2 separate regions of the Homo sapiens genome follow, and region 2 is linked to region 1. A link means that fine-mapping ties the variant in region 1 to the plasma level of a protein whose gene starts in the linked region. Region 1 holds a variant in brackets. A gene starts in the other region. All regions are shown on their forward strands. Region 1 holds the start of MUC3A (mucin 3A, cell surface associated). Region 2 holds the start of CDH17 (cadherin 17).

The links. PIP is the posterior inclusion probability: the model's chance that the variant is causal. The UK Biobank Pharma Proteomics Project read protein levels with antibody pairs (Olink). The fine-mapping took linkage between variants from a reference panel, not from the people measured, so its PIPs are less certain.
Region 2: it holds the start of CDH17, and the variant in region 1 is fine-mapped to the plasma level of the CDH17 protein (UK Biobank, PIP above 0.99).

Annotation. Positions count from the first base shown.
Region 1 is chr7:100,945,454-100,950,827 of GRCh38, forward strand. MUC3A (mucin 3A, cell surface associated) reads left to right here and starts at 4,081. Exons shown (of 12, transcript NM_005960.2): 1 at 4,081-4,232. The coding sequence starts at 4,172. It overlaps LOC105375431 (a long non-coding RNA gene), which reads right to left. Exons shown (of 3, transcript XR_007060457.1): 2 at 1,114-1,298. RefSeq lists enhancers at 3,620-4,598, 4,599-5,374. The variant C/T (reference allele first, on the strand shown) is at 2,163.
Region 2 is chr8:94,206,139-94,211,512 of GRCh38, forward strand. CDH17 (cadherin 17) reads right to left here and starts at 2,417. Exons shown (of 18, transcript NM_004063.4): 1 at 2,345-2,417. RefSeq lists an enhancer at 1-1,143.

The DNA.
Region 1 (5,374 bases):
CTGCCATCGTCAGCATAGTCTTCCCACAGCTCTGCTCCTTCCTTCTCCCCAGCAATCCTCTTGCCTGTCTTGAGCTCTGGCTGGAATCTGATTAATTTCTGGAGCCAGCTCCCAGTCTCAGTTGTGTGTGGGCAGCCTACAGTCAGCAGCATCTGACATTACAGCCATGTCTCCCAACCCCAATAGAACACTCTTTTCTCTTCCATCTTCTCCAGCTTCCCCACGAAAGCTGGACCCCAATGTGGGCATGGGGCATTCTCAAACCGCAGACAGAGGATTCCTGCAGTCTTAGCTCATCCATCACCTCCCTGAGTGGGGCGGGGCTCCTACCCAGGCTCTGCAGGGAAAGTGGCCACTTGTCCCCATTCAGAATGCAAAGATGTCACCTTTCCCTCTCCCTTCTGGGCAGGCGTTCAAATGACTGTGCTCCCAGCTAGGAGATAGTAAGTTTGCATCATGGGAGAGATTTCAGTAATGAGCACCATTAATTTCAGGAGTGGGCCAGATGTGGTGGCTCACACCTGTAATCACAGCACTTTGGGAGGCCAAGGTGGGAGGATTACTGGAGGGCAGGAGTTTGAGACCAGCCTGGCCAATATGGTGAAACCCCATCTTTACTAAAAATACACAAAAAAATTAGCCAGGTATGGTGGCACATATGCCTGTAACCCCTGCTACTTGGGAGGTTGAGGCAGGAGACTCTCCTGAACCCATAGGCAGAGGTTGCAGTGAGCCGGGATCACTCCATTGCACTTCAGCCTGGACGACGGAGTGAGACTCCACCTCAAAAAAAACAAAAAACAAAAAAAATTCCAGGACTGGAAAAGGTCACTTCCTGATTGCACATGACTTCCTGGAGGAGGTGAGGAAGGTGTAGAACTGTAAAGGAAAGGTGGGATTTTCACAGGTGAGAGAAAGCGGAGGAGCAGGAGGGCACTGCAGGTGTAGGAATGGCTCAGGCAAGGGCCTGGAGTGGAGCAGAGGCTGAGGTTGGGGGTCTGGTGGCTGGAGCAGAAGGGGGTGTGGGTATTAGAGAGGTGATGGACAGAAGGGGTGGTGGATGGGGGTAGATCTGGGATCCATCTCCCCAGGAGCCTGGTGATCTTTACTTACAACAGGAATCCATTTTCCATTTACGTCTGTGTCTCCAGAACAGTGATGGGAATTTTATGGTGTTTGATACTTAAAAAAAAAAAAAAAAAAGACTGGAAACCCCCGAAACCTCCAGCTTGGTTTGCAGCGTCTTGGCTGGCTGTGGTGCTTGACCATGTGGCTCAGCAGTTTCCACAGAGACTGCTCTGAAAAACAACAACAAAACTTTTTGCAAACGAGTATCTTCATGCTGGGCAACTTGATCAAATGTATTAAGAAATTGAAGTGGAAGACCCCAAGAGTAGCCCTGCTCCCTGTTGGCCCCTCCCCTGAGTTACCCCCAGTGGTGTCATTGTCGGGCTCTGAGCTCCACCTCATTTGGACTCTTTAGCTTTTCATTTCTTTGCTCACTTCCTCAACTTGACCACACACACTGAGGCCAGGGCTATACAATGTGTCCCCTGGATTTTGGTGCAGCCATTTGCACAACCGATGCGCAGGCAGTGTCACTTGGTGGGTATGCACAGCGCCTCTTATTTAGGGTCCCTTCAGTGACTCTCGATAAGGACAAGGTCCCCCAGGAGACATGAGAGGCACAGCCCCTCACGAAGATCTCCCAGCGGGCCTGGCCTCAGAGAGTTCGCTGGCTGCCTTTGCAATCCTGTCCCTTGGGCCTGCTGGGAAGAGGAAGAGCTGCAGTTTCTCTCCGCAAAGCTTCTTCCCTTAGGGATGGTCAGACCTATTTAGATCTATTTTTCTTTTTATCTTTTTTTTTTTTTTGTAGAGATGGGTCTCGCTATATTGCCCAGGGTGGTCTTGAGCTCCTAGCCTCAAGTGATTATCCCGCCTTGATCTCCCAAAGTGTTGGGATTACAGGTGTGAGCTACTGTGCCTGGTCTGACCTAATTTTATTTTATAATTTTTTTTTGAGACGGAGTCTCACTCTGTCACCTAGGCCAGAGTGCAGTGGCGGGATCTTGGCTTACTACAACCCTCACCCCCTGGGTTCAAGCAATTCTCCTGCCTCAGCCTCCTGAGTAGCTGGGATTACAGGAGTGCACTATCATGCC[C/T]GGCTAATCTTTGTATTTTTAGTAGAGACGGGGTTTCGCCATGTTGGTCAGGCTTGTCTCAAACTCCTGACATCAAGTGATCCGCCCACCTCGGCCTCCCAAAGTGCTGGGATGACAGATGTGAGCCACTGTGCCTGGCCCTGACCTAATTTTATATTCATAATTTTTTTTTTTTGAGACAGGTTTTTGCTTTGTCACCTAGGCTGGAGTGCAGTGGCTCGATCATGACTCTTTGGAGCCTTGACCTCCTGGGCTCAGGTGATCCTCCCATCTTGGCCTACCAAGTAGCTGAGACCACAGGGGCACACCACTATGCCTGGCTAATTTTTTTTGTGTTTTTTTTTTTTTTTTGGTAGAGATGGGGTCTTGGCATGTTGCCCAGGCTGGCCTGGAACATTTGGGCTCAAGAGATCCTCCTGCCCCGGCCTCCCAAAGTGCTGGAATTACAGGCGTAAGCCACTGAATCTGGCCTGAGCACAGTGTTCTGTAGGGTGACTATTCCATCTTCTTTCTGGGTTGAAACAATCGTTTGGGCTGTTTCCAATTTCCATCAAAATTGCCATAATCGAGAGTCAATAAACATCCTCATGAATGCTGCCTTGAAGGGTTTCTTGGACACAGAGATGGAGGGTGAAATTGCTGGGTCCTAAGGCACTCATTTAAAATTTTAATAGATGCCACCAAATTACCCCTTTAAAGCAACCCAACCCACCTACACACCCACCAGCTGGATAAGAACATTTGTTTTACTTTATCTTGTTTTTGAAATGAAGTGTCGCTCTGTTGCCCAGGCTGGAGTGCAGAGGCACGATCTCAGCTCATTGCAACCTCTGCCTCTGGGGTTCAAGCAATTCTCCTGCCTCAGCCTCCCAAGTAGGTGGGATTACAGGTGCCCACCCCACGCCAGGCTAATTTTTGTATTTTTAGTAGAGATGGGGTTTCACTATGTTGGCCAGTCTAGTCTCGAACCCCTGACCTCAAGTGATCCTCAAATTACTCTTTTAAAACAACCCAACCCACCTACACATCCACCAGCTGGGTAAGAACGTTTATTCTTCACACCTTTGCCCAAACTGGATAGGTCAAACAATGTGCTGGGTCCAAACCAGTTTTTTTTTTTTTTTTTTTTTTTTGAGATGGAGTCTCGCTCTGTTGCTCAGGCTGGAGTGTAGTGGTGTGCTCTTGGCTCACTGCACCCTCCACCTTCTGGTTTCAAGCGATTTTTCTGCCTCAGCCTATTAGTAGAGATGGGGTTTTGCCATTTTGCCCAGGCTGGTCTCGAACTCGTGACCTCAAGTGATCCACACCCCTCAGCCTTGCAAAGTGCTGGGAATACAGGCGTGAGCCACCGCGCCGGGCCCAGACTAGTATTTTTGAGTGTTTCCTTTGGTCATCCATGTTTCCTTTTCTGGGACCTAGCCCCAACTCTTCAGATAATAAAATGACTTCAGATGGAATTCTGTGTTAATTACTCCCACGGTTTTTTCTGGCCTATGGGGTCCTGCGGGGGACAGGATGGAGCAGGGGCAGACTGAGGGACAGAAGGGGCTTGAAGGAGAGCGAGGTGCCACTGTCTCCCCAGCAGGAGGAATTGAAACTCAGGAGAGGCTGCAGGAGTAGGACCAGACTCCAGAGTCCAAGCCCTCGGTCAAGGGTACCCTCCACGGGTGTCGGGGAGGAAGGGCAGCTTCCAGGCAGTTCCATGTGGGCCAGGCAGGCTGTGGGGCTGAGCCAATAGCAGCTCTTCCTGCCTGACACTTCCTGGACTTGTCCTATCTTTTTCCCCCGTGTCCCGCTTCCCACAGCGCTGACGTCTGTCTGTCCGGGTGCAGGGAGAAGGGAGGAAGAGGGGAGAGGTGGGGCGGTGCAAAGGTGAGGCTGTGCTCAGCCCTGACGCTCAGCAAAACCGATAACCAGCACTTTCATTACGTGCACGCCCCAGGGCCACGTCCCTGCCGCTGTCTTGGTCCTGAAGCCTGTTCTGCCCCAGCCCCCTGCCCGCTGGGCCCATGCAGCTGTTGGGGCTCCTCGGCCTCCTCTGGATGCTCAAGGCCTCCCCGTGGGCCACAGGTAAGGGGGAGAGGCGGAAGGGGGTTGGAGAAAAGCTCCTGATGTGATGTTCCAGGAAAGGGGAGGGAAAAGTGGCTGTAAGGCCTGGGGAGGGGGGATAAGAAGGCACCGCTTGGGGCTCTGGGTGCAGGGAGAACCGAGGCACGGCCTGACTGGGGGAGGGGGCGGTGAGGAGAGGTTTCTTCCAGAGCTCCAGGTGCAGGGAAAACCGAGGTTGGGAAAGAGTGAGGGAGCTGGGTCTCTGCCACTCTCCACCAAGCACTGAGCAGGTTGCAGCGGCTGAGCCCCAATCTGTATCTGCAGCTGGAGGGTAGAGGGTGGGATTTACGTCTTCCCAGAGCAGTGCCCTTCCTGTCTTGACTCCTTCTGTCACCTGCCTCACGCCCCCAGCTTGAGTGTCCCCTTCACACTGGCCTCTCCCTCCCTGACAGCCCTCTAACTTCTACCCCTGGTCTCGGTCCTCTGGTTTCAGCCTCTCTGCCTTTTGTCCCCCGGCGGCTCCTCCCCAGCTCTGCCGTCACTCTCTTACCCCGGCCAGGGCCCATGTGTCTGGGTACAGCTGTTGGTACCAGGGCCGGGGCAGGGAGCTCCTGATGTCCACTTCGCTTCCAAGGGTGCGTCTGAGACTACCCGTCGTGGGGTCCCAGGCTTCTCTCTTCTGCCCTGCAGGAACACCTCGCAATTCCTCTATACTTCTCTTTTCTCTGTACTTCAGTGTCTGCTTCTGATCCCCGATCCCAGGCCACCCAGCCTACAGGCCCATGAGTCCCCTTCTCAGTCACCTCCAGGGCCACATCCTGGAGCCAAGGGCTGTAGCCTGGGGATTCTCATAATCCCTGACCCCACTTCCCTGGCACCCACGAGCTAGGTTGAGACGTGACACCCCAGCTCTCAGCCACAAGATGGGCTGTGCCCGAGGTGAGGGGTAGCAGGTCGGGTACCTCCCACTTCCCATCTGCTGTGGCTGCCTGTCTTCCTTGTCCCTGACACCCCCGACAGCCGGATCTCTGATCCTAACTCTGACAAATTGTGAAATGGGTTGAAATCCACATGCTGGGGTTCATGCTTGTAAACTAATGAATCCCACGGCCAAAAGGGAATAGTATAGAAAAATATGTCTATTTGTGTGATGAACACTCACT
Region 2 (5,374 bases), not on the chromosome of region 1:
GCTTAGCTTGTTACGTATTGCTTAAGTGAAAAAAAAAAATCAACTTTAGTGTAGTTAATACCTCAGCCACTAGGGGAATATCTGCTTTTATTAAGTTAATATTTCTTGTACCTAAGTAAACATTCCTTCTTCTTCCTGTCTGTTCTTACAAGTAACAAATAAGTAGATAGGTATTCCCTTAAAATTCCGTGTGTCTTTCTTTGGATAATCAACGAGCAGTTACAGAACAACTAGCCCCATTCTAAATCTGATACCAGAGATTTCTGAATCAATGCAATTTTATGTCAAATCTATACATCTCTACCCATGTGAACCAGCTTCTGTTCAAGCACTGTTTGTCGGCCTCCAGAGCAAGGAGCATGACAATGCCCAGCTTTCCTCCTCAGAGCTGTTGCTGTTAATGTGGAAGAAAAATGAGGGACACATCCTTCTAGACATTTTTTTTGACAATGGAACGAGAAGTAGAGTTTCTGCCAGGATATATTTTGCACATCATCCAGATTTTTTTTTTTTTTTTTTTTGAGACAGGTTCTCACTCTGTCACCCAGGCTGGAATGCAGTGGCACAATCATGACTCACTGCAGCCTCAACCTCCTGGGCTTAAGGAATCCTCTCACCTCAGCCTCCCAAGTCGCTAGGACTATAGGTAAGTGCCATCATGCCTGGCTAATTTTTAATTTTCTTGTACAGTCTGGATCTCCCTATGTTCAGACCTTCCAGGCTGGTCTTGAACTCCAGCACAAGCGGTTCTCCCTCCTCAGCTTCTCAAAGTACTGGAATTACAGGAATGACCCACCACACCCAGCCATATTTTGCCTTTTGTATGAGAAAGGAGGAGGTACCGGAAATGTAACCTTCACCTTGAACAGTGATGACTTTTTTCAGGGGTCATCTGGGTGAGTTTCAAAGGATGCCCCACCTGCACCTCACCCAAAGACTTATATGGGAACCATGAGAGGGGCTTTAAAATGCTATATATATAGCAAAACCAATAGTTTTATTATTCTCATATTTTTGAATCCTACTTCCTGAACATAGAATTAGTTCCTCTCTTGCATAATGGTAGATGCTATTTTTATGGCATCACTGATTTTTTTCTTATTTTTCTAAAGAATGAAACAAAAATTTCTCAATTCATCCTGAGTCACCTACTTGAACTTTCTCATGGAACAGAGCGCTAACATTCACTGGATGTGTACCATGCACCAAGCAACATAGTAAGCTCTTTACCTACTTATCTAATTTACTTCTCACAACTACCTAGTTAGGCAAGTCTCTAGTGGCAGCTCTCTGTTCTGTGCCCACAGGTTGGAAAATGATGAAACTGGCCTAACCCATTTGGCCAACCCTGAAGACTCATATGGCCCCGTAACTCACTAGAAACCCTCTCTCAGTAAAGGACTCGCTTTGTTTCCTGGTGAGAGCTGAATAGCATTCATCTTCCTTTCATCTAAACATGTGTTTTTTCTTCTTCTTTCAAATAATGCCTCATTTGCTATTTAAGCTTTTGAAGAAAAATAAAGACAAGAAAATATTAGAGAAGGCACTGTCCTTCCAATCTGCTGCTTGGCATCCCCTACCACAGAGGGCATCTGTCCCTATAAAGTCACCTGTCATAAAAGACCAAGACAGAGGCAAATATCGGACCATTGAAGATACCAATAAGCTGTGTGTGGCTTAACATAAAAATAACCACACATTAGCAGGTGGTAACTCCACCACCAAGGCCAAAAGCAGCCCAGGAAGCTGATTAACACGCACATCAGCCTCTTCTCTCACTTGTGAAGGCAGGTCTGTCTGTCTTCAATTCTTATTCTAGTACTTTTACAAAAAGACTTTTCTTCTTCTCTGCATGTTCCCTCCCTTGCTGTGTCCTAGACAATTCTAAGAATCCCAAATTGAATCTCATTCTCTGAGAAGTAGATAGAATGACATGCTTTTTGAGAATGTGATTCCAACCCCAATTTCTAGAATACAAGAGCCCTAGAGCATCTTAAGACCAGGGACTTTTATATACTCATCACAAAGAATGGATGTGATACTTGTTTAAACATCAGAGAACTCAATTTCCCCTTTAATTCCACTGCCAAGCTTGATTTCACTGCAGCCACTTCATCAAATGAATTTATAAAATATGGACCAATGAAAAGAAACTACAAAAAAAAATTGTGCTCCATAAGCAAAACTTGTCATGCCAGCAACAAATTTCCCTTCTCCGCATCTGCATAGCCCACCTCAAGGAACAAATTTGTCAAGCAACTTTTTAAGTGCCCTCCCCCTCCATCTACTTTGTCCTTCTGGAATAAATACGTTACTGACACAGTTAAGACATGTCAGCCCTTACCTTTCTGTAAGTCACAAAATGGTGGTTAAAAGTCCTTTTCTTCCATTCAGTGGTCGAGACTCTTGCTACGACTGGAGTATCTCCCCCGGGAACACTCCCTCTTCCCTGCTTTGCCTCCCAGCCTCTCCCTTCAGCTTCAGTCAAACATTAACCATTAACATTTTTTATTGCTCTTCGAGAGCCACTGGGTATCATAAAAAGTGTCATTACTTTTACTCCAGGAAAGAAATGACTTTGTATCAAAAGAAGTTTAACTTACATCTAATCCATCTCAAAACAGGTTGCTACATTTTTCAATGTAGATGAGTCAATGAAAAGACAAGAAGTTAGAGTGGAAAAGTTTTTGTGTATCCAACTATCTCTAGAGTGTGAGGTTCATGACATCAAAGACTTTCCATATTTTGTACCCCCAACACTTAGCACAGGAGACTTGATCAGCAAATATTTATGTAGATTCCATCTCAAACACAAAAGACGGAGCAGGGGCGCCATGTCTGAGCAATGACACAGTTCATTGATAACCAGCCACATGAGATATCATAAATGACTCAGAAGACATGAGGAAAGACACAATATGGCTGTGCCTGCTTTTGAAATCCAAGGGTCCCTTCCAAAGTCTGCAAGAAACAACCGATAGCAAATTTCCCCCAAACACAAACCAAGTCCTTTTTTCCCCCCCACAATTCAGGGAATGGATTTACCTAGGAACAACTTATTTTTCCCCAATCAAAATGAGGTTTTTGATTAACCAATAAAAGCCAATGCCCCCAGATTTCTCAAGTCAAGGCTTCTTTTAGACCAATTCCTGATTTCCACACTTTGGTCACTCTGGGAATCCACACTGAAGGTGAGCATCAATGTCATGTCTGTGTCTGGTGTGTTACACTTGGCCCTGTTTCTGTGGACCTTCTCATGTTCATTTCTTGGCTTCTCCTGAGCTGAGGTTGTGTTTTCCATTCCTCTCCAGGTGTGCATCTGACAGAGGGAAAGCAAGAGAGCCCAGCCCACTCTCTAGAAGGGCTCCCTCCTTTCCAGATTTCATGAGAAGGTTTCATGAGTGCTCTAAGCCACTGTGGGAATAGACCTCATTTATCCTGAGGACCCTGCAAGTGAAACCATCTAGTTGCATGCCAGCTGTTAACATCCTTGGTGGACTGGTGGGTTCAGCAAAGGCCCTTCTTGCTTTGTCCCACAGCCAGCATCACTCATTTAGAAGAATGAGGTTATTGAGGCTAAGCACTTCTCACATTCTTCACACCTCTGCCCTCCCATTAGCTGAATAAAGTGTGCTTGTTCTACAAAATCAAATCGCTTCCACTTGCCACATGTTTCAGTTCCTGGAATCAAGGGCAAGCATCTCATCACACAGCATTGTTCATAAAGAAGTTTGGGTCTTCTTTGAAAATTTTAAAATAATAAAGTGCTTTTAAATTTATGAGTTTTTTTTTTTCAAAAATAAAGTGCATATGTATCATTTATAGTCATTGTTTTTCAGCAACAATAACAATGATCGTGACATGTTGGTATATCAATTAAAATTCTGTTTTCTCATTTAGCATGTCTGCAAAGTAGATTCCAGTTTATAGACAGAAAATGGGGACACAGAGAGGTTTTATTTCTTGTCTAAGTCACACAGCCTTTGACTACAGAATCGGGACTGCAACCCTGTTCTGATTCAAATCCCATCCTATTCACTACAGCTATAGACTCTGCCAGATTTTTTTCCTTCCAGCTTTATGCGAGTAAAAAAAAAAAAAAAAAAAAAAAAAAAAGTCCAAGGGCAGAAATCCCTGCATGAGCCCATTCCTGTTGGAAGATGGCCAAGTTCCGAAATGGGGTTCCTCTGTACATCACTTGCTATCTCTAGCCCCCAGCTTCCAGCTCAAAGAATTAGGTTAATTAAACACTGAAAATGCCTAAACCACCCATCAGAGAAATTAACAGGTGATTATTGCATTTCTGAATTACAGAAGCTATTTCTGTACTGTGGGATACCAGGTTAACAAGATTCTGAGAGCTGTTCATATATTCCTTACATGGTTTAGACATCCTTCCAGATTAAATCCAAATGTTAAGAATGTGCACGTTTCAGGTAGCCACCACTGCATTTTAGGAACTCATTTTCATGAAAAGTGAGACATTGCTGGTTCAATAGACTTGCTAATAATAGGAATAAGGAAAATGTAATTGATAAATATTACTGATTTAATTTTCCAAAGCAAAGGAGGTATGATTTATAGGATGAAAACAACTGAAGGCCAGGCGCAGTGGCTCACACCTGTAATCCCAGCACTTTGGGAGGCTGAGGCAGGCAGATTACCTGAGGTCAGGAGTTTGAGACCAGCCTGTCCAACATGGTGAAACCTCATCTCTACTAAAAATGCAAAAATTAGCCAGGTGTGGTGGCAGGTGCCTGTAATCCCAGCTACTCAGGAGGCTGACTCAGGAGAATCATTTGAACCTGGGAGGTGGAGGTTGCATTGAGCCGAGATTGCACCACTGCACTCCAGCCTAGCCGACAGAGCAAGACTGCATCTCAAAAAAAAAAAAAAAAAAGAAAACAAAACTGAACAAGTGAAAGGACTTGGGCTAATGCTTTCAACTCACAGCTTCATGGTGGTGAAAACATTTCAACGCTTTTGTCTATAATGTTTTAAGCATTCCTCCAATATTATCCCTAGAAAATACAAATGTCCATAAATAAGTAATTAATTTATGGACATTTGTAAGAAAGTCTAGATAGCCTCCCAGACAAAAAAGTTATGAAAACTTGGAATTATTCCTAAAAGTCAAAGCATGTTACATTTCTAATATTTATATTCTTTTTTATTTTATTTTATTTATTTTTTGAGATGGAGTCTTGATGTCCCCAAGGCTGGAGTGCAATGGCACAATCTCAGCTCACTGCAACCTCCGCCTCCCAGTTTCAAGTGATTCTCCTGCCTCAGCCTCCCATGTAGCTGGGATTACAGGTGCCCACCACCACACCCGGCTAATTTTTTATATTTTTAGTAGAGACGGGGTTTAACC